Linked DNA regions of Homo sapiens. The protein of the gene in region 4 purifies or fractionates together with the protein of the main gene of each other region. This does not show direct contact. Each region holds a gene or a part of one and is shown on either strand. Other genes may lie near its edges.

What was found.
Region 1: the proteins of CNTROB (region 4) and DNAJC8 purify together in Homo sapiens (affinity purification with mass spectrometry; one large-scale study listed by BioGRID and IntAct). This does not show direct contact.
Region 2: the proteins of CNTROB (region 4) and CROCC purify together in Homo sapiens (co-immunoprecipitation; one large-scale study listed by IntAct). This does not show direct contact.
Region 3: the proteins of CNTROB (region 4) and PLXNA3 purify together in Homo sapiens (affinity purification with mass spectrometry; one large-scale study listed by BioGRID and IntAct). This does not show direct contact.
Region 5: the proteins of CNTROB (region 4) and ZNF800 purify together in Homo sapiens (affinity purification with mass spectrometry; one large-scale study listed by BioGRID and IntAct). This does not show direct contact.
Region 6: the proteins of CNTROB (region 4) and MAP3K4 purify together in Homo sapiens (affinity purification with mass spectrometry, with the first as the bait; one large-scale study listed by BioGRID). This does not show direct contact.
Region 7: the proteins of CNTROB (region 4) and MOCOS purify together in Homo sapiens (affinity purification with mass spectrometry; one large-scale study listed by BioGRID and IntAct). This does not show direct contact.

What each region holds. Positions count from the first base shown.
Region 1 is NC_000001.11:28,209,030-28,212,529, reverse strand, and holds part of DNAJC8 (dnaJ homolog subfamily C member 8), read left to right. Parts: intron 1-1,892; coding exon 1,893-1,959; intron 1,960-2,463; coding exon 2,464-2,558; intron 2,559-3,500. UniProt on the Homo sapiens protein: Suppresses polyglutamine (polyQ) aggregation of ATXN3 in neuronal cells.
Region 2 is NC_000001.11:16,945,931-16,949,430, reverse strand, and holds part of CROCC (rootletin), read right to left. Parts: intron 3,173-3,500; coding exon 3,026-3,172; intron 2,671-3,025; coding exon 2,440-2,670; intron 1,101-2,439; coding exon 907-1,100; intron 633-906; coding exon 505-632; intron 1-504. UniProt on the Homo sapiens protein: Major structural component of the ciliary rootlet, a cytoskeletal-like structure in ciliated cells which originates from the basal body at the proximal end of a cilium and extends proximally toward the cell nucleus.
Region 3 is NC_000023.11:154,471,781-154,475,280, reverse strand, and holds part of PLXNA3 (plexin-A3 precursor), read right to left. Parts: intron 2,692-3,500; coding exon 2,596-2,691; 3' UTR 1-2,595. UniProt on the Homo sapiens protein: Coreceptor for SEMA3A and SEMA3F. Necessary for signaling by class 3 semaphorins and subsequent remodeling of the cytoskeleton. Plays a role in axon guidance in the developing nervous system.
Region 4 is NC_000017.11:7,938,706-7,942,205, reverse strand, and holds part of CNTROB (centrobin), read right to left. Parts: intron 2,694-3,500; coding exon 2,457-2,693; intron 2,111-2,456; coding exon 1,964-2,110; intron 1-1,963. UniProt on the Homo sapiens protein: Required for centriole duplication. Inhibition of centriole duplication leading to defects in cytokinesis.
Region 5 is NC_000007.14:127,382,709-127,386,208, reverse strand, and holds part of ZNF800 (zinc finger protein 800), read left to right. Parts: intron 1-53; coding exon 54-149; exon of another isoform or gene 150-683; intron 684-3,500. UniProt on the Homo sapiens protein: May be involved in transcriptional regulation.
Region 6 is NC_000006.12:161,113,769-161,117,880, reverse strand, and holds the end of MAP3K4 (mitogen-activated protein kinase kinase kinase 4), read right to left. Parts: intron 2,759-4,112; coding exon 2,579-2,758; intron 1,032-2,578; coding exon 1,011-1,031; 3' UTR 501-1,010; downstream 1-500. UniProt on the Homo sapiens protein: Component of a protein kinase signal transduction cascade. Activates the CSBP2, P38 and JNK MAPK pathways, but not the ERK pathway. Specifically phosphorylates and activates MAP2K4 and MAP2K6.
Region 7 is NC_000018.10:36,200,997-36,204,496, forward strand, and holds part of MOCOS (molybdenum cofactor sulfurase), read left to right. Parts: intron 1-2,116; coding exon 2,117-2,193; intron 2,194-3,500. UniProt on the Homo sapiens protein: Sulfurates the molybdenum cofactor. Sulfation of molybdenum is essential for xanthine dehydrogenase (XDH) and aldehyde oxidase (ADO) enzymes in which molybdenum cofactor is liganded by 1 oxygen and 1 sulfur atom in active form.

The DNA.
Region 1 (3,500 bases), on a different chromosome or scaffold from region 4:
CGGGCAGATTGCTTGAGCTCAGGAGTTCGTGACCAGCCTGGGCAACATGGTGAAACCCCGTCTCTACAAAAAACGAAAAACAACAACAGCAAAAGCCAAAAATTAGCCGTGCCTGTAGTCCCAGCTACTCAGAAGGCTGAGGTGGGAGGATCACTTGAGTCCAGGAGATTGAGGCTGCAGTGAGCTGGGATAGCACCATTGCACTCCAGCCTGGATGATAGAGCAACACTCTGTCTCAAAAAAAAAAAAAAAAAAAAGAATAGAACAACGAATATTCATGTATCCACCATCTATATTGAATAGTTAATTTCATTTATATATATATATATATATATATATATATATATATATATATATATATTTATTTATTTATTGAGACGGAGTCCGGCTCTGTCACCCAGGTTGCAGTACAGTGTTGCGATCTTGGCTCACGGCAGCCTCCACCTCCTGAGTTCAAGTGATTCTCTTGCCTCAGCGTCCTGAGTAGCTGGTATTATAGATGTGTGCCACTGTGCCTGCCAAATTTTTGTATTTTTAGTAGAGACGGGGTTTCACCATGTAGGCCAGGCTGGTCTCGAACTCCTGACCTCAAGTGATCTGCCAGCCTCAGCCTTCCAAAGTGCTGGGATTACAGGCGGGAGCCACTGCTCCTGGCAGACACTGACTATATATTTAACTATATATTTTTGGCTGAATCATTGTAAATTGCAATAAACCATGATGCTTTACCCCTAAATACTTCAGCTTGTACCCTTCCCAAAAAAAGGACATTTTCTTGCATAATCACTTATCCCACCTAACAAAATAAGGGCTAATTCCCTACGATCATCTGAAACCCAGTCTAGTAGAGGTTTACAAAGTGCAGATGCCAAAGACTAACTCAGAAGGTCTGAGGGTGGAAATTAGAATGTTGTCTTTTTCAGAAGCTTCACAGGGTTGGAGCACAGGCAGAATGAGAAACTGCTTTAGATTAGGAGTTCTTTTAGGAGAGAGTTGATGTCTCATACCTGCTTTAGCCACCTTAGTGCTTAGTACAGGTTGAGTATCCCTTATCTGAAATGCTTGAGACTAGAAGTATTTCAGATTTCAGATTTTTTCAGATTTTGGAATATTTGCAGAATGCATAATGGTCGAGCATCCCTAATCCGAAAATTCAAAATGTTCCAATGAGCGTTTCCTTTGAGCATCATGTTAGCACTCAGAAAGTTTCAGATTTTGGAGCCTTTTGGATTTTGGGTGCTCAACCTGCATAAGGAACATAATAGGAACTTGATACCTTTCAGTCTCCCTCCTCCCCCAAATTATTACAACATCTTCATAGTGCTAGGCTTCCATTTGTTTTTGTTTTTGTTTTTGTTTTTGTTTTTTCCTGGAGACAGGGTCTCACTTTGTTGCCCAGGCTGGAGTGCAGTGGCACAATCTCAACCTCCCAGGCTCAAGTGATTCTCCCACGTTAGCTTCCTAAATAGCTTGGACTACAGGCGACCACCACCATGTCTGGGTAATTAAAAAATTTTTTTTTTGTAGAGACAGGGTCTTGCTATGTTGCTCAGGCTGGTCTCGAAGTCCTGGGCTTAAGTAATCCTCTCACCTCAGCCTCCCAAAGTGGTGGGATGACAGGCGTGAGCCTCTGTGCCTGGCATGTTTGGTCTCAACTTTGTGATTAAAACCTGAAATGTTTCCTAGTTGTACCTTTACCTTTTGGTGCTTGAATTTTGTTAAAGATCAGTATTTCTGGGCATTTAAAGAGATTTGTTAATTTTTTAAATGCTTTTGCTAAGAGTCTCTTTTTGCCGTAGGACCTTAGAGCTTTTGGTTGTAACGAGACAGGGCAGGCTGGAAGTTAGTAAATGTTTCCCTTATTGACAACCCCAACTTTTCTCTTATTGTAGTTATCCATCTTGGTGCATCCTGACAAAAATCAAGATGATGCTGACAGAGCACAAAAGGCTTTTGAAGGTATTTGTAAATTTACCTGCTTCTGAGTATTAGATTGTGAATGGCAGGGCCTAACTGTTCCTTGTCCTAGATCAAGCAAAGACTGTTATAGTTTTGTCTTCTGGTCACCAAGAAGCTGTGGTTTTCAGTAGAGCAGTTGCCATTTCAAAGCAGAATGTTGTTGTTTAAGAAGTAGACCTTAACTTTGCTTTGTTAAAACTTTTATATGCCAACAAAGACTGTTATTGCATAGGATCATTTTTTTTCTTTGAACATAAAGAATTTTATCACTGAATTAAATCCAGATGTAGTGTATTTAGCCTTGAGTATATATTTAATTTTTTCCAAGGCTCTTAAGGAAAGTCATTGCTATAGTTGAATGTTTTTTTTAACTTAGTTTAACGACAGTAAATAATTAAAGTAGGGAATGCTTTAGAGAGCACAAGTCCATTTACACTGCCTGAGTATAGTTCAGACTTTCAGAGGGTGTTTGCAGAAACAGTTAATTTCAATGTTTTGCATTAGCTGTGGACAAAGCTTACAAGTTGCTACTGGATCAGGAGCAAAAGAAGAGGGCCCTGGATGTAATTCAGGCAGGAAAAGAATACGTGGAACACACTGTAAGTATTTATAGTGCTGCTGTGTTTACAGGAAGTATCAGCAAGCCTTGGGCACCTTGTAGAAGGGTACATATGAACATAGTAATGCCTACTGGCACAACCTGTGGCTACTTCTGTGCTCTCTACCACTTTGCTGTGGTGGTCATGAATAGTGTGTGCCTGAAGCTGTAATTCACCCCTAAGAGAAGAACTCAGATGAGGAGTAGCTGGTACACTGCTCCTACCTCTTTCCCTACCAGTCCTGTGTTGGGGAGAAAGGGTTGTTCTCTCCCTCTCATCACATATTGCCACTTACCCCATTCTTAGAGTGGAAACGTGGAGCAGCCTGTGACTCTTGACTCTTGATTTTTATTCTTGTCCCTGTGAAGGGTTTGCAACAAGGCTTGGCAAAGGCTAGCAAGAGGATAGGCGTAAACTTTTTTTAAAATAGGAGGAGGTTTATGTCCATCTTAATAACAGAGTTGGGAAGAACTCAGTTGAAGGAAACTGAGTTGTAGCTGGTGTTATTTTTGTTTGCTCTTGAGGGCATACATAAGTCTCCAATGTGGTGGGAAATGTCAGTATGGCTTTCCCAAGGTAAGAAAGGTCTTTTAACTTTTTACTTGCTGGGGCAAGAATCTTGAGGTCATTTGTAAGAGCTGCTTCAATTGTGATTGGATGACTTTTCACATGAAGAGCTTTGAAATCTGAGACAACTTTATAACCATAATAATGAATCCAGTTTCGGTGAGGAAAATGGATAAGAAGAGGAGACAAAGGGCCCATAACTATATCCTGCGGGTCATGTGTTGGAAATGGCACTTGTAGGCCCTATCCTGGTAGAAATAGGGAAAGTGCCTGACAGTTTCTCCTTAAATCATTGTGGCTTCGTATGTCTTTCACCTGTAAGAAAGTCATCCTTAGGCTTCCTGACCACAGGGTGGCAGTAGGGCCTTTCTGAGC
Region 2 (3,500 bases), on a different chromosome or scaffold from region 4:
GGCTCAGGTGTACATGGACAGGAAAATTAATTTCCATGACCCAAGTAGGTGCTTAGTTAATGTTAGGTGAGCAGAAAGAAGCCCTGAGTTCAGAGACTGGATGGGAACGGTGCAGGGAAGTGGGGCTGGGATTCTGGGGCCAAGAGAGTCATCTGAAAAGCACAGAGAACTCAGACTAACAGGCCTGATGACCGATGAACGGCAGTTACTGTTGACTCAGCCAGGCACCGTGCCACGGCCTTACACGCTTTTCCCACGTCATCCTGGCAACAGGCTTAGAAGGTGGGCATTGCCACCTCCAATCATCAGCTGAGGAATCTGCAGCCCAGAGAGGAAAGGGGCTTGCTCAAGGGAAGGTGAGATCTAAGTGGTGGCACAGGACTGGAACCCAGGCCAGCCAGACTCCTACTCCAGTGCTCCCAACTTCTGTGAGACCCCAGACCTTGGGAGGCTGCAGTCTGGGCTGGAACCTGGTGTTCCCCCCAAGTCCCCAGCCCCTCGTACCAGTCAGGGTCTCCTTGGCCAGCAGCAGGGCCTGCCCCTCGGCTTCCAGCTGCTCCCGGCGGGCCTCAAGCTGGGCCAGCTGCCGTTGCACCTCAAACAGGCTGCCCTCCAGGGCTTCCTTCTCCAAGCTGCAGCACATACAGTCCCTGAGGCCCTGGGACTCAGCCTCCCTGGCCCCAGGAAACTGTGGATCTCAGGGAGTGGCCAGGCATGGGCCAAGTGCCAATCTACCTGCCTGGCCAGGCCCACACTCCCTGGGGAAGCCTGAGCCACAGCTAGGACGAGTCGGCAAGCCAGACTCCTTAGTAACTGCCCCTGGGGGCCCGTGCCTGCGTGTGGCTGGTCATGGTGTGGCCCCAGGAGGACCCCCCAGGGCGGGTTGGGCAGAGCCCAAGGCCTTACCGCAGGCGTGTGGCCTCCTCTGACAGGGTCCTGCCTTCACGCTCCGCAGCCACCAGCTGCACAGCCAGGCCAGCGTGCTCCTTGGCTAGCGCCTCCTTCTCACGGGCCGCTCGCTCCAGCGCCTCCACTTGCCGCTGGGCCTCCCGCCGGGCCTGCTCCAGCTCCTGCTCCCGCCCGCTCAGCTGCCGGGAGAGCTGGCCCCCACCCAGAGACTGAGTAGCACTCCCAGCGTCCCCCAGCTTGTTCATCGTGCAGCACCCCAACTCTGGGCCTAACCCAGTCCTGGCAGAAGGCCTGGGTTTGAGCCCAGGGTCTGCCCTGATGTGCTACATGTACTTGGGCAAGTCATGACCTTCTCTAGATCTGCAATGCACGTGTGTACAAAAACCAGGGCCCAGCCAGGTACGGTGGTGCGTGCCTATAATCCCAGCACTTTGGCAGGTGGATCACTTGAGGTCAGGAGTTCAAGACCAGCCTGGCCAACGGGGTGAAACCCTGTCTCTACTAAAAATACAAAAATTAGCCGGGCGTGGTGGTGCACGCCTGTAGTCCCTGCTACTTGGGACGCTGAGGCAGGCGAACAGCTTAAACCCTGGAGGCGGAGGTTGCAGTGAGCCCAGATCGTGCCACTGCATTCCAGCCTGGGCAACAGAGCAAGACTCTGTCTGGAAAAAAAAACAACAACAAAAACAAAACAAAATGAAACAAAAAAAATGAGGGCCCTCACTCAGCTCTGGGAGTAACAGAACCCTTGTATTACTCTAAACTTGCAGAGAAGCTGAATATATAAACCAGACCCAAGTGCAGCTGCTCGGCAGGCCTCAAGGTGGAGACCTGCACCCTGCTTCCTGCACCCCCTACCCCATCCTCTAGAGGCCCCTCCCAGAAACCTAGGCGCTCCAGGATAGACCTTGCATGAAGGTCCCTGGATCCCTGAAACATTAAGGTCTCTTCCAGATGTGATGTTCCCAAAAGTCTAAGATTCCAATTCTAAAAAGTCTCCACCTATTATTAATCTGTATCATTATTATTATTATTATTATTATTATTATTATTGAGACGGAGTCTTGCTCTGTTGCCCAGGCTGGAGTGCAGTGGCATGATCTTGGCTCACTGCAACCTCTGCCTCCTGGGTTCAAGCGATTCTCCTGCCTCAGCCTCCCAAGTAGCTGGGACTACAGGCGCGTGCCACCACGCCCAGCTAATTTTTTGTAGAGATAGGGTTTCACCGTGTTAGCCAGGATGGTCTTGATCTCCGGACCTCAGGTGATCCACCCGCCTCGGCCTCCCAAAGTGCTGGGATTATAGGCGTGAGCCACTGCGCCTGGCTGGCCCCATGTTATAGATGGGGCAACTGAGGTATGGGAGATTGGGCAGCTTGTCCAAGGTCCCCAGCTAGCAGAAGTGGGGCTGGATTTAACCCAGAAGCAGGCTCCAGTGCCTGTGACTTAACCCAGGACTGGATGCAGGGGGCTGGGAGCCCGGCCTGCCCCACATGCTCTCCACACCACCCCCACACACAGCTTTGCCCACCTGCGCTAGCTGCTCCTGCAGCTGGCTGCGCTCATGGCGCAGCGTGGGGAGCTGCTGCTCCAATGCCTCCTGGGCCTGCTCCGCCACTCGTAGGGAGCCCTCCAGGCCCTGCCGCGCCACCTCCTGCTCCAACCGCAGCTCCTCTAGCCGTTCCTGCTCTTCCCGCGCCACTGTGGCCTCCTGCTCTGCCTGCCGTTGCCGGCCCTGCAGGGCGGACTTTTCTTCCTCCAGCTGGAGGCCAGGTAGGAGTGGGGCCTCGTGAGCAGGGCGTCCCTCCCAGGACCAGGACGCCTCCTCCACCCACCCACCAGCAACAATAGCCCAGGGGAGGCTCCCAGGGAATGAGGGACAGTGCCCTTGGGTGTATGGGACACTGGGGAGGGGGAGATGAGGAGGGCCCATGGAACTTCTGTGCTTTGACGCCTAGAGGGGATAGACAGACAGACAGAGAACCAGAGACAGACAGAGAACCAGGGACAGAAAGGGAGGCAGGGGCCAAGACAGGTACAGGGCTGGGCCCGGGGTGCCTCACTGAGTGGGGAGGATGGGTGGGCAAGGCAGGTGGGCCCGCAGGTGCACAGCGTACCTGGGCGACAAGGCGGTTCAGATCCAACTTGTCCTGAGCAAGGCTCTCGTTGAGGGCGCTCAGCTTGGACAGGGAGTCCTGCAGGGAGGCCTCCTCTGCCCTCAGCTTGGTCATGGAGAGCTCGAGCTCCACGCGGCCAGCCTCAGCCTGCAGGGTCAGGCCCCGAGAAATGAGGAAAGGCAGAAAGGTCGGGAGGAGGTGAGGAGGCCCAAGAAGAGACCCAGAGAGATGGACCCTCAGAGACAGGGTAGGGGAGACAAGGAGGGGACACAGTGTGAGATGGAAAAAAAAAAATCACCGCAGAAAGCCTGCTGCTTATGAGCCATTTAAAAGCCACACACCACAGAGCTGTGCAAAAATAGCTCAAGCTGCAGGGCAGGGCCAGAGTTCAGAGGATCCCCTGAGTAGGGTCTAGGGATAGCACTGCTCAGAGCCCAGGCTGCAGCGGACAGCGCAGGCCCCCCTGCCAAGGACC
Region 3 (3,500 bases), on a different chromosome or scaffold from region 4:
AAAAATACAAAATTAGCTGGGCGTGGTGGCACATGCCTGTAATCTCAGCTACTCAGGAGGCTGAGGCAGGAGAATCACTTGAACCCGGGAGGCGGAGGTTGCGGTGAGCCAAGATCATACCATTGCACTCCAGCCTGGGCAACAAGAGTGAAACTCTGTCTCAAAAAAAAAAAAAAAAAAAATTGCATCTCACTTGGCTGGGCACAGTGGCTCACAACTGTAATCCCAGAATTTTGGGAGGCCAAAACAGGAGGATCACTTGAGCCCAGGAGGTTCAAAACCAGCAAGACTCCATCTCTACTAAAGAAAAAAAAAAAAAACAAAAAACAGCTGGGTATGGTGGCAAGCACTTGTAATCCTAGCTACTCAGAAGGCTGAGGCAGGAAGATCACTTGAGCCCAGGACATCAAGGCTGCAGTGAGTTGATTTTGCCACTGCACTCCAGCGTGGGCAACAGGGCAAGATCCCGTCTCCAAAAAAAAAAAAAAAAAAAAAAAAAAAAAAGGTCAGGCATGGTGGCTCACGCCTGTAATCCCAGCACTTTGGGAGGCTGAGGCAGGTGGATCACGAGGTCAGGAGATCGAGACCATCCTGGCTAACACAGTAAAACCCCGTCTCTACTAAAAATACAAAAAATTAGCCGGGCGTGGTGGTGGGCACCTGTAGTTCCAGCTATTCGGGAGGCTGAGGCAGGAGAATGGCGTGAACCTGGGAGGCGGAGCTTGCAGTGAGCCGAGATCATGCCACTGCACTCCAGCCTGGGCGACAGAGCGACACTCCGTCAAAGAAAAAAAAAAAAACATAAAAAGTAAAAATAAGATTCCATCTCACCTGGCCGGGCACAGTGGCTCATGCCTGTAATCCCAATACTTTGGGAGGCTGAGGGGTGAGGATCACTTGAGACCAGGAATTCAAGACCAGCCTGAACAACATAGCGGCAACCTATCTCAAAAAAAAAAAAAAAAAAAGCCTGGCATAGTAGAGTGCACTAATACACCCAGCTATTCAGGAGGCTGAGGTGGGAGGATCACTTGAGCCCAGGAGTTTGAGACTGCACTGAGCTGTGATCTTGCCACTGCACTCCAGCCTGGGCAACACAGCTACACTCTGTCTCAAAATAAATAAATAAATAAATTGCATGTCACCTTCTCCCCACCTGCATTACTTAACAGGCCTGGGAGTAAGACTTTGGTAGGTGCACCATGATGGGTGCCACAACCTCGACAGTATGCAATTGTCAGGTTTTGAAGGAGCTGGCTGCAGCTGAAACCGCCGGAGGGTTCTAAACAGTGAGGCAACATGATCCACCTTATATCATAACAGGATCTCTCTGCCTCCCACGCTGAGAACAGGCTGAAGAGAGCCAGGGCAGAAGCAGGGAGACTGGCATCCAGGCAGAGATAGACGATGGCACAGGAGAGCTGGGTGGGGGTGGTGGAAGGGAGGAGAATCTATCTACCTTGAATCTGTCTTGAAGGTAGAGCCACCGGGGTTTGCTGATGGGTCGGGTATGGCCCTGAACCTCCCCAAACCCTCTGGGACCCTGCAAGGAGTGGTCCTTTCTCCCACAATGGGGCTCCAGCTCATGCAGCATCCACAGGTCTACTGACCTGCCCCAAGGACAGAGCCCCACATGGATGGCATTTCCCCAACATTTAATCAGGAAAAAACATTCCATGAACAAAGAAAAACTCATGCAACTAAAGAGGAGAGAACGGGGGGTCTGGGACTGTCAGACAGGGCCAGATTCCTCAGAGGAGGCAGAAGACACAGAGTAGTAAGGCACGGCCGCCTTGGCCCCACAGGGCGGGCACTGGACGGAGCGGGCGCTGAATGGGGCGGCTGAAGGAGTCGGAGCAGGTGCAGACAACACTGAGGACGTTTGGCAGTAGGCTCAGGAGGAGGAGCGTTCTAGGGCCCCCAGGCCCAAGTCAGGCCCTGGCACAAGCCTGAGTCCAGCCCTCCAGGTGCTCAGAGAGAATAGGGCCCCGAGATGCTTGAGGGGGACCCTGTGGTCCAGCGTGGCACAGCCACAATTCTGAGGAAGCTTTGGAGGCCTCACCCCAAGTGCTGCTGGTACCGTGACCCCGCCTTGGAATGGGTGGGGTCAGCCATGGCAAGGGTGAGGTGCCAGAGGCCAGACCGAGGCTGATAATGCTACACAAAGGAGCCCAGACGGGTGGCAGGGCCCAGGACAGCTCAAGAAGAGGCAGGTGAGTGAGGGTGGCGACATCCGGTGGGGGGACACATATTTACAGATGGAGACAGAGGCGAAGTTCGATTCAATAAATAGGCAGAGGGATATAAATAGCAGGGAGGGTGGGACTGTCCCAACACCTGGGCACAGGGCAGGAGGGTGGGGGTATTGCTGCTGCTGGGGTGGGGGCTCGCCCTGTCACCCCTCCCCCTGCAGGGCCCAAAGCAAGGCACTAATGAAGGGGGCCTGGGTGTGCCGGGGGCATCGTGGCCAGGGTGACCTGCCCCACGATACCCAATCCAGGGCTCAGCCCGGGGACCCAGGCTTGAGCCAGCCACTCCCCTGGATGGGAGGACGGCACAGGACTGAGAAGCCCCCTCCTCACCGATTCCACCACCTTAGCTGTCGCTGGACACGAGGCTGATGATCTGTTCCAGTTTCTGCCGCAACTTATGCTTCCGACAAGAGGCATCTCGGTCCAGAGCCGTGAGAATCTGGGGGAGAGGAGTCCCCTGGAGCTGGGCTCTGTAGGGGGCGCAGCTCCTGCCATGCAAAGTCCCCACTTCCCAGCTGGGCTCCTCCCTCCCACACGCCTCATCCCTCCGTCCTCCCCCGCAGCCCCTGTACAAACCCACCAGCTCTCCCCAGCCCCAAATGCCCCTCCGACGACAGCACTTTCTCCTCCTCCTCTCCACAGCTAGGGTGCGGCCTGTCCCTAGAGTGACCTGGACTCTGGACTCGCCGTGCTGGATTCCCCCTCCCATTACCTCCTAGCCCAAGCCTCCCTCGCGCCAGGACCCCGTGACCCTCGCCAGACCCAGTGAGTGTTCTGCAGGTCACCATCCTTCACCAGCAGCAGCACTGGAAGATGGAGCCGGCCACTGCCACTCCCTGACCTGTGAGGGGTCCTCACTGGCTCAGGTTGCCAGACCCCACCAGGCGCTCTCAGGCATCCTCCCCGCTGGCTGCTGCACCTCCCCTCCCCTCCCCTCTTTGTGTCCTGGGGCCCTGGGCTCAGTGTTTGGGCCGCTTCTCCCTCCACACCCACTTGTGGCTTCCCTGTGAGCTCATCCAGGCTCAGGGCTTTAAATGCCATCCACAGGCTTGCAAATGTGTCCAGCCCAGACTCCATCCTAAAGTCCACACCTCTATGTCCTCCTGCCTCTGGCTATTTCTCATCACAAAGCCTGACCCATCCCTTCCAGTGCTCAGGCCCTTTAACTTTTGCCCAGTGGCCACTTTGTACCCAGCCAGTGGCTTATCTCCTGGGTCCCTCAAATTCCAGCATCTACCTGTGATCCCA
Region 4 (3,500 bases):
AGTCTTGACCTCCCAGACTCAAGAGATCCTCCCACCTCAGCCTCCAGAGTAGCTGGGACTACAAGCTGGTGCCACAACACCCAGCTAATATTTTTATTTTTTGTAGAGATGGGGTCTCATTATGTTGCCCAGACTGGTCTCAAACTCTTGGACTCAAGCAATCCTCCCACTTCAGCCTCCCAAAGTGCTGGGATTACAGGCGTGAGCCACCACACCTGGCCCTTTCTGTCTTTTTTTTTTTTGAGACTCGGTCTCGCTCCTGTCACCCAGGCTGGAGTGCAGTGGTGTGATCACGGGTCACTGCAGCCTCTACTTCCAGGGTTCAGTTGATCCTCCCACCTCAGCCTCCCGAGTAGCTGGGACTACAGGTGCATGCCACTATACCCGGCTAAGTTTTTGTATTTTTAGCAGAGTTTAGGTACTGCCATATTGCGCCCAGGTTGGTCTTGAACTCCTGGGCTCAAGCAATCTGCCCGTTTCGGCCTCCCAAAGTGCTGGGATTCCAGGTGCGAGCCACCACACCCGGATGCTTTCTTAGTCTTTATCGCATGTGATCTCATTGTAACACCTGAAGCCCTAGGTCAATTCTTTTTTTTTTTTTTTTTTTGAGATGGAGTCTCACTCTGTTGCCCAGGCTGGAGTACACTGGTTCAATCTGGGCTCACTGCAACCTCCACCTCCCGGGTTCAAGCGATTCTCCTGCCTCGGCCTTCTTAGTAGCCGGGACTACAGGTGTGCACCATACACCTGGATAATTTTTGTATTTTTAGTAGAGACAGGGTTTCACCATGTTGGCCGGGCTGGTCTCAAACTCCTGGGCTCAAGTGATCCACCCGCCTTGGCCTCCCACAGTGCTGGGATTACAGGCATGAGCCACCATACCGGGCCAAAGGATTGTGGTTCTCAAATGCTGGCCTCACTGGTACCTCCTTAAGTTAACCATTTATAAGGAACATAGCCTCTCAGACTGGCTTGCACCTGGAAAATTCATCAATTTGTCCTTACACATTTTATACATAAAAACAGAGGCCCATAAAGGTCAAAATTCTAGCTAGAAGTAGACGTAAGTGCCCTAAGTCCTAATGCAATACTCTTTCCTCTTCAACGCTGTGTCTCCCCCATGGGCTGGAACACAGCTCTCTCCAATCCTTTCCTCTATTCTGGAGATCGGCGAACTACAGCCCAATTCAGCCCTCCATTGCCTGTTTAGATAAGTTGTACTAGAACACAGCTGTGCCCATTTGTTTACGTACAGTTTATAGCTACTTCTGTGGTATAACAGCAGAGTTGGGTAGTTGCAACTGAGACCATACAACCCACAAAGCTAAAAATATTTACTGTCTGGCCCTTTACAGAAAAAGTTCGCCAACTCCTGCTCTATTCCATGGCAAGAGTCCGACTAGTTTGAATTTAAAATTCAGTGTGTTAGCTAGATGGAAAGAGTTTTTCAAAGTGTAATTATATCTGACAAACAATTTTTGAGTACAATTCTGTGCCAGGCCATGTGCTGTTATGGAAGTTTCATAAGTAAATTAAAAAATCATTGCCCTCCTGGGTCCCTGACCTACTCAGAGAAATTAATACAAGTTATTCAAGTAATGAGAATTACAAAGCACACTGTTACAATTGGAATCAAGTCTCTGACAAAAGCTTTCACCTGCTCTGTCAACCCACTAAGTGTGGTGTCATCTCTTAAAATAACATAAGGTATCTTTAATAGATTTAAATCTATTTAATCCTAAAAGTAACACTAGGTCAGTCTGACATATTGTGGGAAATGGTCACTCAGTAAGAAATAGCTCTGAGTTTAGGACAGAAAACTACCCATACTACATAGAAACTGTTAATGGAATTAAACCCCAAACACCTGAACTGGGAGTGTCTGCCACAACTCCTGAGAGGTCCCTCTGCCTCAGATCTACTTCTGTCAGAACAAAACCTCAAGAAACCTCTGCCTTCTGACCTGCACCAAGCTCATTTCCAGCTGCAGGGCATCTCTCTCTCTCCGAGCTGTATCCAGCTCTCCTTCCAGCCGCCGCACCTCAGACTGCACCAATGCCAACTGGTGCTGGGTCTCCCAGGCGGCCTGGGCTTCCCTCTGGCTCTTCTCCTATGAAAGACAAATCAAATGTATATACATACCTCATTTCTTATCTCCTGGTTACCTACACTCCCCAGTTCATCCTCCCAAACCCTAAAATCCAAGCTTCCCCCAGCTCCTCCCATTTGTTTTATTTCCCCATCCCTGTTGAATTTCAGTCTTTGGCCTTTCACGTATTCATTACCCCCAGCCCTTCCTGCTGGCCCTATACTCTCAACCTTGTCTCCCACACATGGCTCTCTACTCTCCATTCCTGCCTATATGTATCCCCCATATTCTAACATTCCATCCCATTCAATTATTTTGCCCTTCATCTACTCCCTAGTTCCTCAGCTCTTCCAACTGCCACTTTTACCTTCTCCCTTTCCAGCTGAGCCTGGCTCTCCTCCTGCAGCGCCTGGTAGTGTTCCTTAAGCTGGTGCTCTTGCTGGGCCCAGGTCTGCCGTTCTTCTTCTAGGGCAGCCCGAAGAGTCTCCAACTCTCGATGCTCACTCAGTTGCCCAGCCCGAGCTGCATCCCGCTCTTCCTGCAGGACACAGCACCGCTGCTGTTCTGCCTCCAACCTCAGAGTCAGAGCTTGCCTTTCCTCCTCCTACAGCCGCAGAAGAAAACCAAGCTCCTTAGTAGGCTCTTCAGAGACCAGCGATCTGCCCTCTGACCCTCATACAAGGTGCCTGCTGAGAATTATGCTCATTAAAAACACAATAATTAGGCCGGGTGCGGTGGCTCACACCTGTAATCCCAGCATTTTGGGAGGCCAAGGCAGGCAGATTACCTGAGGTCAGGAGTTTGAGACCAGCCTGGTCCAACATGGTGAAACCCCATCTCTACTAAAAATACAAAAATTAGCCAGGCGTGGTGGTGGGTGCCTGTAATTCCAGCTACTTGGGAGGCAAAGGCAGGAGAATCGCTCTAACCTGGGAGGTGGAGGTTGCAGTGAGCTGGGATCACACAACTGCACTCCAGCCTAGGCGACATCGAGCAAGACTCCATCTCAAATAAAACCAAAAGAAACCCCACAATAGTTGACAGGCGCAGTGGCTCATGCCTGTAATCCCAGCACTTTGGGAGGCTGAGGCAGGCAGATCATCTGAGGTCAGGAGTTTGGGACCAGCCTGGCCAACATGGTGAAACCATGTCTCTACTAAAAATATAAAAATTAGCTGGGCATGGTGGTGCACACCTGTATTCCCAGCTACTCAGGAGGCTGAGGCAGGAGAATTGCTTGAACCTGGGAGGCGGAGGTTGCAGTGAGCCAAGATTGTGCCACTGAACCCTAGCCTGGGCAACAGAGCGAGACTCCATCTCAAAACAAACAAACACAATAGTTGACAAGCTCATAGGATTATAATATAGTAGATAAGAGTTCCTGTTCCAGAGCCAGGTAGACCTGGGTTCA
Region 5 (3,500 bases), on a different chromosome or scaffold from region 4:
TTAAATAACCCTTTTTTTGTGGGGATTGGGGTGGGTGTTTGTCTTCCATGTAGTTTATATCCTGGAACCTGGAGATCCTCCTTTGTTACAGCAACCACTACAGACATCCAAATCTGGTATTCAACAAATAATTGAGTGCTTTCGATCAGGTATGAATGTTTTAGGATATATTTTTCAATCTTCACATAGTAGTTAAAAACTACCTAGAAGTCCTTAGAAATAATTTTTAAAAAACATTAAAATGTATATGTTGGCTTTCTTTATAGAATATTTAAAATTTTCATATTTTAAAAAAGTGGATGTATAAATACTGACTTGGTCTAGAGATTATTCTTCAGTACTATATATGGTATATTAATTTTAAAATAAATTTGTTTAGTATGATTTAAATAAATATATTATGTGGTGTATTTTCTGGTAAAGCACTTCTTAAAGATCCATTGATATCTTTTGGCATGTTTTGTGTAAACTCTCAAAAGGCAGTAAATTATTCTGGGTCTTCATGAGCTTTGGTACAGTAGATTACTCAGAATGTCTGAGATGTCATTTGTTCTAGGTTAATTACCTTATTTATGTTTGTGTGATCACCTCCTTCATCCTAACCCTTGAGTTTGTGGAGTTTTGGTATCTTTAATAGAGCGCAAGATAGAAGAAAGACAATATTCCAGCCCTGATATCTTCAGGTAGATTTGCTTAGATTTTATTTTCATTAGCTGATAATAAGAATTAGCTTTATAATAAATATAATTGTGTAATTGTAATCCAGTGTTTTAAAATAGGTATTACTTACAACATGTGAAATGATTGGGAACTGTTAGCGCCCCTATGTTATCAGTAAGATGTTAGGTTGCTGTGATTCCTATAATCCACTTGTCCACCCCTTGTGTATTTGGCTTCTCTGACATTACAGAGTATTCACTCAGATGTGAACAAGCAAATAAATATGACTGATGGACACTTAGAGGATTAGAATACCTTGTCATTATTTAAATCTTAACTAACTGAATGAAAAATTTCTGAGGTTCAAAGGAAAAATAATTCATATGTAACTACTTGTTTTGTATTGATGAGATTTTTTGAGTTGCTTGTTTCTAAATTGTTATAAACGGGGAAATCATATATTTGCTTTACTTTAGGATTCTAAGAAATAGAATCTGAATTAAAACATTTATTTTTTCTCTGACTCTCCAAAAGATCCATTTCTTAGACTTTTCATCTGTAGTACTCATGGCATTGCTTTTATCTGTATTTAATTTAGGAAGCATTGCTTGTATACCAAGTGCCTATCCTTATATTGGATGGTGGTATAAACTATTTTAGGGATTTTTTGTTGTTTGATTTTTACTTTTGATAATTGCCCTCGACTAACAGATAATTTATAGGTCAAATTTTCTTGTGATAAGTTCAATTAAAATAGAATTTTACTTATTAGGGACAGTATTTATATTTCTGGCATAACAGAAAAAATAGTGTCTGTTTGTTTTAGCTTCTTTTAGAATAGAGATTAAAGGGTTTTTTTGGTTCTTTCTCATACCATGGAAATGACAGCAATAGCTTTTCATATTTAGTAATATTACTTGTTATAGGTTTCTTTTTTAAAATTCTTAATTTGGAATTAATGAAGTTATACTATGTCAGTTTACTATAGCATTTTTTTATTGAGAAGTTAGAATTAGGCTGGGCGCGGTGGCTCACGTCTGTAATCCCAGCACTTTGGGAGGCCGAGGCGGGCAGATCACGAGGTCAGGAGATCGAGACCATCCTGGCTAACACGGTGAAACTCCGTCTCTACTAAAAATACAAAAAATTAGCTGGGGGGCGGCGGCGGGCGCCTGTAGTCTCAGCTACTCGAGAGGCTGAGGCAGGAGAATGGCGTGAACCCGGGAGGGGGAGCTTGCAGTGAGCCAAGATAGCGCCACTGCAGTCCGGCCTGGAGGAAAGAGTGAGACTCTGTCTAAAAAAAAAAAAAAAAAAAAAAAAAGAAGTTAGAATTAGTTAAGTCATAAGTGCTTTGACTTGTTAAAAAACAGCCTTATCAACAAGAACCTGTACCCAAAATCTGTGTGGGTACAGAATTAAAAAAGATTCCAAAAATCTTTTTTAATTTTAGAAGGCAAATATTTAAAGATTAAATTAATTATTTTCTTATTATGTTGTGATCATATCTGTTCTCTGTGTTTGTCGTATTTTTACTCTCTGAGCTAAAGAAGTGAGGCAGTGAAACGGGTAATTTGAAATGGTAAAATTCCAAAGCCATTTTATGTTGATGTTTTGAACTGCGATCTTTTTAAAATGATATCAGCAAATTTGCCTTTTGAGTTATTTTTTATTTAGGCAAATTCTGAAAATACTATTATTTTAATTTTCTGAGTACCCAACAGTTTAAGTTAGAGGTGATTTAGAAATATGCTGAGTGGTACAAAGAAACTAATCTTGGATTAAAAAAAGAATTATTTTACTTCATTACTGTATCCTGTAACTAAGAAATTTTAGTTTCTTCAAGATAGTAATCTCTTGCATTTCTGGTTAATCTAATGTCTACTGTGGTAGCCCTTCTTTAGCACTAAGGCATTTAAGTTGAGACTGACTAAAACCTTGGGAGAATGGTATGGAAGTCTGGACTGTATAACTTGGGGACAAAGATCCCTTCTAGCTCTGAGGCTCTGTTCTTCCTATTCCACTCTACTCCTAAGCACACCCTCAATGACTCATCTATTTCTAGGCTCTTTCCATTACAATTAGGTCACACACGTTGCATTTAAAGAACTATCCTGGTGGTGCTATATATCTTTGACAGATATTTGAAGATAGAACCCTGAAGTCCATGCTTTTGCTCTTGTTAACCTGTAGGGTATAAATCAGGTTGAATGGTAGTAATATGTTAGGTTATCTACCTTTATCTTCAAGCTCAGATAGTTATCTTCAACTGCTGTATCATCTCCTTTTGTGTCTCACCTTCTGCCTACACTGGGCTGTCTATGACCAGGTATTAATTCCTATGCAAGCTGGAAGTTCATAAAAAGTTCTGTCTTATGAAGGAGTTGACTCATTTTTAATGTCCACCACTTGATGTGTGCTATACTGACTGCTTGACCAGTTTTAACCCATCCTGTTTGCCTGACATTTCAGCTTTTCCTTTGAACTGTTTTCTTGGATTTAAATTACAAATTCTTATTGACTTCTGGTATATCTTTATTAGTCTGCTTAACTTGCAAATTAAGTTAAATGGGTTTTTCTTTTTATAATAAGTAATATGTGTCTGTGGTTTTAAATAGTAAAGTACAAAAGGGTATAGAGGAAAAAATAAGTTTCTATACTATTCTGTCCTTCAGTTCCCCTTTGCTCAGGCAACGCTGCTACATGGTTTATGTGTCTTCTTCCAGAGACCTTTTATACATATACAAACATATATCCCTCATTTTCTTCTTACACAAATGGTAGCTGACTCTACGTACTCTTGTGTACCTTTGCTTTATTAACTGTAGATTCAACTATTTATT
Region 6 (4,112 bases), on a different chromosome or scaffold from region 4:
TTCCAAAAAGATTTCAGGAAGCTCTATGGTCAATCTTTTTAAAAAATTTAATAGCAAAAACAAAAACAAAAAAAACACCAATGATGTATAATTTGGGCTGTTTTGGAAAGCTAAATGCTGAAATGTTTACTTCTGAAAAAGATGCTTTCTCATCAGATCATTCAGCAGTAATTACACTGACCTAGCACCTAAACATCTTGGTTTAAAAATAAAGTGAACTCCCAACATGTGATAACAAGGCTTAAACTTGTATCTGTTATAAACTTGCTGGTTAATAGAAACTACTTAAAAGGAACCACCTTACGTCATTAGTGTTGCTTCATTTATTTCCTTTGCTTTTCAGCGAGGCGATCCTAAAGAGACGCCGAACCCAGTGACCATCTTTAGCACACGTGATTGTGCTCCTCCTTTTGAGGAACAGATGAGTGAAAATGACAGACTTCTGTATCATACTGCGTTGGCTCATAAGTGTTAACCATTAAAAGACAATATAACTGAGCTTTCCTAAAATAAACCATTTATTGAAAAAAGAACCTTTTTCTTAAATTTCAGTAATCAGCCTTTTGCATTACAAACCTGCAGCTTGCCAACAACAACAAAAAAGGTAAAGGTTTCACAGTCAGTGCACTCAACAAACAGGAGATTAAAAACAAGGTATGGGACGCCTGATAACACTACAACTTCTTTTGAACCTAGAAAGGTCAAAACACTACGCTGATGTCACGGTTCTCAGTCGCGCGAGACACGGAGGAGACAGAGGCGATGGTCCGTGTACAGTAGTAATGGCACTTAACATGCAGCTTCTTTAACCTCGTGGCCACCAGCCCTCCAGAGGGCCTTTTGCCACATCAGACAAACAGGAGCAGCAGGAGAAGTGACGCTTGTCACCTGTGCAGTCTTCAGTCTTGGAAGGTTAAAAAGGCTTATACTGCTTCTCAGCACAGTCTTTATGTAAATATTACATACAGTAGTGATTAAGAGAATTTTCCAAGTCCATATTCTACTAGGCTTCATTCTTCATCTGTGCAAACCTGTGAGGAAGCAGGAGAGAGCTGAGCTCTTGCAGAGCCAGGTGTGTGCTTGTGCATACGCGCAGTATGAGTCTTACGGGGAAGGCCCCATCCACTCATCCTGATGCTCCCAGCACTGTACTGGGCACAGAGGGCAAGGCTTAAGAAATGTAATGAACAATGGCAGAGGTAAGTTACTGCTCTAAAGTTAAGCCTGGGAACTGACTAATGAAAGCATTTTCTAAAACGCCTATATGCACTCTCAGGTCAATATAAATTGTTATGCACTTCATAACTAAGACATAAATTGTTATTTAATTACAAATCCCTAATGTCTCCATAGCTGATCCTGCTGCTTGCCCCTTACTCCCACTTACCAATAAGAGCATCACCCCACTCTTCTGCCCCTTCCTTTCCTTTCCCAGGGACTCTCTCCTGCAGGGCCCTTGCAAGGCTCTTTTCTCCAGGGCTCTGTTCTCATCCCCTTGTCCTCTGTGGACCCTCCCAGCAATACTTCTGTCTCCCACACCTGTGCCCTACCCAAAATCCCTCTTGAGTGCCAGCCCCAGGTATCCAAATGCCCATGTGAAATCTCCAAGCAGATGCTCCAAATGTACCCCAAGCTTCATCCACCAAAGAGGACCCACCACCTCCCGACCCACCCCTCACCCAGCTGCTTCTTTCCCTACCCTGGCAAATAGAGTCTGTGACCTGATGACACAAACCAGAAACCTGGGAGCCACTCTAGACTCCTCCCCTCACTCACCTTTCACATCCAATCAGGGGTCAGCCACGGCACTCTAACTCTTAAATGCCGCTGTTCACTCACCCGGAACGCCCTCTCCCAACCCCTTGGCTGTATCAGAACCTTCTCAATTCCTTTGCCTCTAGAGTGATCTTTCTAAAACTCTATGTCATCATTTATGTTTATAATAAAATGGAAACTCCTTCATGTTGCTCCTGGTTACTGTTCTAGCCTTATCTTCCTGCCCTTGTCCACATCCTGTGTTCACCAGGATCTACCTACACAGGGCTCTGTGACCATCCCACTCTCCCGGAAGGGTGAGCGTTTCCAAGTTTCTTTACTTTGTCTTCCATGCCCCCTCCCCCACTTCTGACCTGGCTGTGGCTCTTAAACAACTAAGGTACCTCATTCTAGAGAAAAAAGAACTGAGATTGGCTGACTTAATTAAATTCCTCTTCTGAGTAACCTTATATACCATTATCACAGCTCTCAGTATAATGATTAGTCATTACCGTCTTGACCCTCCAAGTAGACTATACACTCTCAAGAGTGGAAACTCTTTCATCCAGTCCCATCTAAAAGTCCATTTTACTGTCTCTGGTGTATCTTAAATGCACCATCAAAACAGATCAAGTGGAAGAACCTCAATGAACATTTTCCAAATGAAAAAACACATACAAAAATCCCTGGCATAATAATACATTTAGTTCCTTTCCACTTCAGATATAGCTACTTTAAAGTTTCAAAATTTCATTAACGTCTTGATGCAAAACAGAACTTAAACACTTAAACATGAAAAAGACTATCCAGTAATCTGCCAAACCTTGACAAACGAATGGTCGAGGAGCTGGCTGGCGGTCCATCTCATCTTTGGGTCACTCTCAAGGCAGTGAGAAAGGAAGTCCTTTCCTTCAGGGCTTAATCTTTCAGGGATTGGTGGCTTATGTCCCATCCCCACTTTATACATAATTTGAAAGTTGTGCTCATACTCATGCCAAGGCCTCTAAAAAAGATGTTTTTAAAAAATCAGATTTTAATATTACACAGCCACAAACAACGCAAATGTTCAGTCTGTTTTTAAGCATCTCATCATTAATATATATCAGGGGACAGCAAATTTTTACTGAAAGGGCCAAACAATATTTTAGGTTGACAGGCCATATGATCTCTATCACAACTATTCACTAATCTCATGGCAGCATGGTAGCAGCTATGGACAACACATAAATGAATATGACTGTTCCAACAAAACTTTATTTATAAAACAGGTGGCCAGCATAGTTTGCCTACTCCATTTGGGGTGCACTATTTAGTCCAACAGTATCTAGAAGCCATCATCATGCAACTAAAAAATATATAAAATGACATAAAAAAGTCTATAAAACCCAATTCTCTTATAGGGATGGTTAATATGCTACCTTATTGAAAAATAAAAATTGCATTAGTGCAAAGCTTATTTCATTATGATCCTATGAAAAATGAGATTCACAGGGGAAGGAACTAAGTGTGTATGGCATTCTAATTTCTAAACTATTGTTTCGTCATTGCCAATATGTATTCTTCAATATGAGAACCTGTTCTTTTATGTGTGGCTTTACTGGAATAACACAGATATCACAACTGCCTTTCTATTTTAATGCTAATAGAAATAATGCTAGCTAATATTTACTGAGCACTTATATGTGATCTGTTTCAGCAGCTGCAAGGCATAGCTACATTATAATTAACTGATTTCCTACTAGTAACTTAACACTAACTTTTAACTTAGAAATGAAGGTTTCTAACTTTTTTGCTATAATACTGTATGTGTACGGTAAGCTACCATGTGCAGTTCATGCGTGTCTTTTTACATTTGTATAACTGCTCATTAATATTATCATCATAAGATACATTTTCAGAAGCAGAAAACTTCTTGGTTTAAGTGCTATGCACATTTAAAATTTTGATAGAGATTGGAAATGTCTCCGGAGCAGCCCTACCACATGGAATTTCTGTCCAAAACATGTGTGTTTCTTTATATACTCTCTAAAAGATAGTATTCTCAATCTTTAAAAATGTCACTCAGCACTTCGGGAGGCTGAGGCAGGCGGATCATGAGGTCAGGAGTTCGAGACCAGCCTGGCCAACACAGTGAAACCCTGTCTCTACCAAAGTACAAAACTTAGCCAGGCATGGTGGCAGGTGCCTGTAATCCCAGCTACTTGGGAGGCTGAGGCAGAAGAATTGCTTGAACCCGGGAGGCGGAGGTTGCAGTGAGCCGAGATCATGCCACTTGCACTCCTGCCTGGCGACAGAGCGAGACTCCATCTCAAAAAAAAAAAAAAAAAAAAAAAAAGTCACTCATATGCTAAGTAAAA
Region 7 (3,500 bases), on a different chromosome or scaffold from region 4:
TGGGTTATGCTCAGGACTCTTTCAAATGGTAACAGCTGGGACCTGTAAGGTCGAGTGTGTCAAGGCTGAAAATGGTGGCTGATCCAGGGTTCTGCTGGGTCAACAGTGGGGACACAGGGTTGGGTAGGCAACTAATCACCTCCAGGGTCCGGAGAAGGCCTGGGGCATAGACGGGAAGGGCTTTAGATCCCCAACAGACCCCACACAGACGCAAGGGTCCTGCACGTAGGGCCATGGCCTTGACGATAGAGTCAGTGTTAGCTGTGTAAGCCTCAGGCTGGACCACTGGGGAATGAGTCCCCGCTCCACTGCACACCAGCGAGGGGACATGTGACTTGTTCTCTGCACCTCATGTTTTTTCTGTAAAGTAGAAATGATAATATTGGGTCGGGTGTGGTGGCTCACACCTGTAATCCCAGCACTTTGGGAGGCCAAGGTGGGTGGATCATGAGGTCAGGAGTTCGAGACCAGCCTGCCCAACATGGTGAAACTCCGTCTCTACTAAAAACACAAAAATTAGCTGAGTGTGGTGGTGGGTGCTTGTAATCTCAGCTGCTCAAGAGATTGAGGCAGGAGAATTGCTTGAGCCCAGGAGGCAGACGTTGCAATGAGTCAAGATCATACCCACTGCACTCTAGCCCTGGTGACAGAGCAAGACTCCATCTCCAAAAAAAAAAAAAAAAGAAATGATAATATTGTCCTTTTAGAGCTAACATGGGTGAAGTATCAGAATGGTAGGGATCAATGTTAGGAGGCTATTTGATGCCTCTTTTATTTAGGACTTGTCCATAGTTGGGGGGCTTCTAAAACAGGAATGCTCATGTAAAACCTCTTGACTCCAAGTGTGATAATTTACCATGTAACAGAATCAAATGAGAAAAGAATGACAGGCATAACATAATGTAAGTTACAGGCAGAACAAAGCGACACCTCAAATTTAATTTGGCCAATAAGGGCACCTGAAGGCCAGGAGAAGTGGGGCAGCTCACTGGGGGCCAGGGCATGAATGGGCTGGGGGGGATCAGACCTCTTTCCTTTGATTCAGGTAGATGACTTTACAACAGATGACACGCCAACATTCCCAGAAAGCTGAATTTATTTATTTACCATTATAAGCCAATTTTTTTCTTGTGAACTTAGGACTAGAACTCAATAGATTTAATACTCAACCTAAAGGTTTATTGAATAAATACCTTGACTATGTTCTCAACTTTATTTTATAACTCAGCGAAGTACATCCCTTGACAGAAACAAAAAACTTTTATTTTAAGAAATCTATTAAGTATTTGATCAATAAATAATTGTCAATCAATAACTGGCTAGTTTAACAAATTTTTTTGTAGAGATGGGGTCTTGCTATCTAGAGATGGGGTCTTGCTTTTTGTAGAGATGGGGTGTTGCACAGGCAGGTAGTTTCAAACTCTTGGCCTCAAGTGATCCTCCCACCTGGGCCTCCCAAAGTGTTGAGATAACAGGCATGAGCCACTGCACCTGGCCACCCTAGGAAATTTAGAGCAGCCCAAGAAAACTGCAGAGTGGGTCAGGGCCAGAGGCAGCTGGACAGGTCTTGGTGTACAAAGTGCCCCCATCCTGAAGGGGAGAGCAATGTTTTATAAGACAGCAGAGGGAAGGTATTAATAGATTACAGCGGTATTAGTCCAATTTCACACTGTTATAAAGATACTACCCAAGACTGGGTAATTTATAAACAAAGGAGGTTTAATTGGCTCACAGTTCTGCATTGCTGGAGAGGCCTCAGGAAACTTACAATCATGGCGGAAAGGGAAGCAGGCACTTTCTTCACAAGGCAGCAGGAGAGACAGAGAAGAGCCCAGGGGAACTGCCATTTATAAAACCATCAGATCTCGTGAGAACTCCCTCACTATCACGAAATGAGAACAGCAAGGGGGAAACCATCCCCATAATCCAATCACCTCCTACCAGGTCCATCCCTCAACACCTGGGGATTACAATTAGAGATGAGATTTAGGTGGAGACATAAAGCCAAACCACATCAACAGCTAAGCCTAAAATCTAAAGCTCATTATATACCACGAAATGCACATGGATTGTTTTGACCACAGCTTGACCTGTTCTCCTTACCCCGTGGTTATAGGTTTGAAGATGGCACCATCTCATTCCTTGATGTTATCGCGCTAAAACATGGATTTGACACCCTAGAGCGCCTCACAGGTCAGTGGACATTTCTATCCCTGTGGAATTTGCTCCTGTTGTGTCCTTGAGGGAGCTCTGGCACAGGTGTGATTCAGGTAAAGGAGACAGAGTCTGTGGAAGTGACTGGCACTCCATGTAGTTAAATTTGATTCCTAGTAACTTCAAAACCACTTCAGAGAGCAAGAGAATGAGGTGGGGTTTTTGGATTGTTTTTTGTTTTTTCAGCTAAAATAACATTTTAACAGGTAGAAGACATTCCAAATCAGGAGATTGCTAGCTTCACAGAATGAGAGGAGCATCCCTGGGTCCTGGGAATGGTTACAGATCCTGAGGCCTTTACCTGCTCTTGCCTTTCTGGGTCCTCCCCACTGCCCCACGGGGGAGCTCTGCCTATGAATGAGCTGATGCTCAGAGAGGTTAAACGCCTTCCAGGCCAGGGAGCTGGAAACCAGGAGGGCAAGGATTTAACCCAAGTCATACTGATGCCTAACCATGAGCACCCAACCACTGTGTCTGCCGATGGTCTTCGCATGAGGCATGATTTCTTTCCTGGCCATTGCTCTTTTGTCACAGTAATGGGACCCTTCAGTGCCTTAACCTTAGCCTTAGCCCAACATAGGGGCAGACAGGATTCACGGGAAGAGAGGGTCGCCCTGATGGCAATGCAGGGAGGTGAGTGGGCATGATCTGGGACAAACGGAGTAGTTAATAAATACAGGCAGTGAGTAGTGAGTACTTTCCAAGGAAAGATATTAACAGGGCCCCCAAACTGCAGGTGACAGTGTCTAACAGGTCCAGGTAGCTCGGAATGCAAAGGTTGACTGTACCAGTCCACAATATGGCAAACCCTGATTTTTTTCCTATGTCATTGTTCCTTTTTTAAAAAATAAAAATTGTGGTAAACTATACATAACATAAAACTTACCATTTTAACTATTTTTAAGTGTACAACTCAGTCGTAGTAAATACATTCACAATGTCGTGCCACCATCACCACTATCTATTTCCAGAACTTTACCATACCAAACAGAAACTCTGTACCCATTAAACAATAACTCTCTATTTCCTCCTCCCCTTCCAACCCTTGGAACTACTTTTTTTTCTCTGTGGATTTGCCTATTCTTGGTAACTCATCTAAGTAGAATCATACGACATTTGTCCTTTTGTGTCTGGCTTCACTTAGCACGTTTCCAAGATTCATTCATGTTGAAGCATGTATTCTTCATTGCTTTGTGTAGTGTTAAAATGATTTAAACATTAATAATAAAAACAAACAGCAAAAATATGTTTAGAGGAAAAAACATACATTTTGTGATCTGTTACCA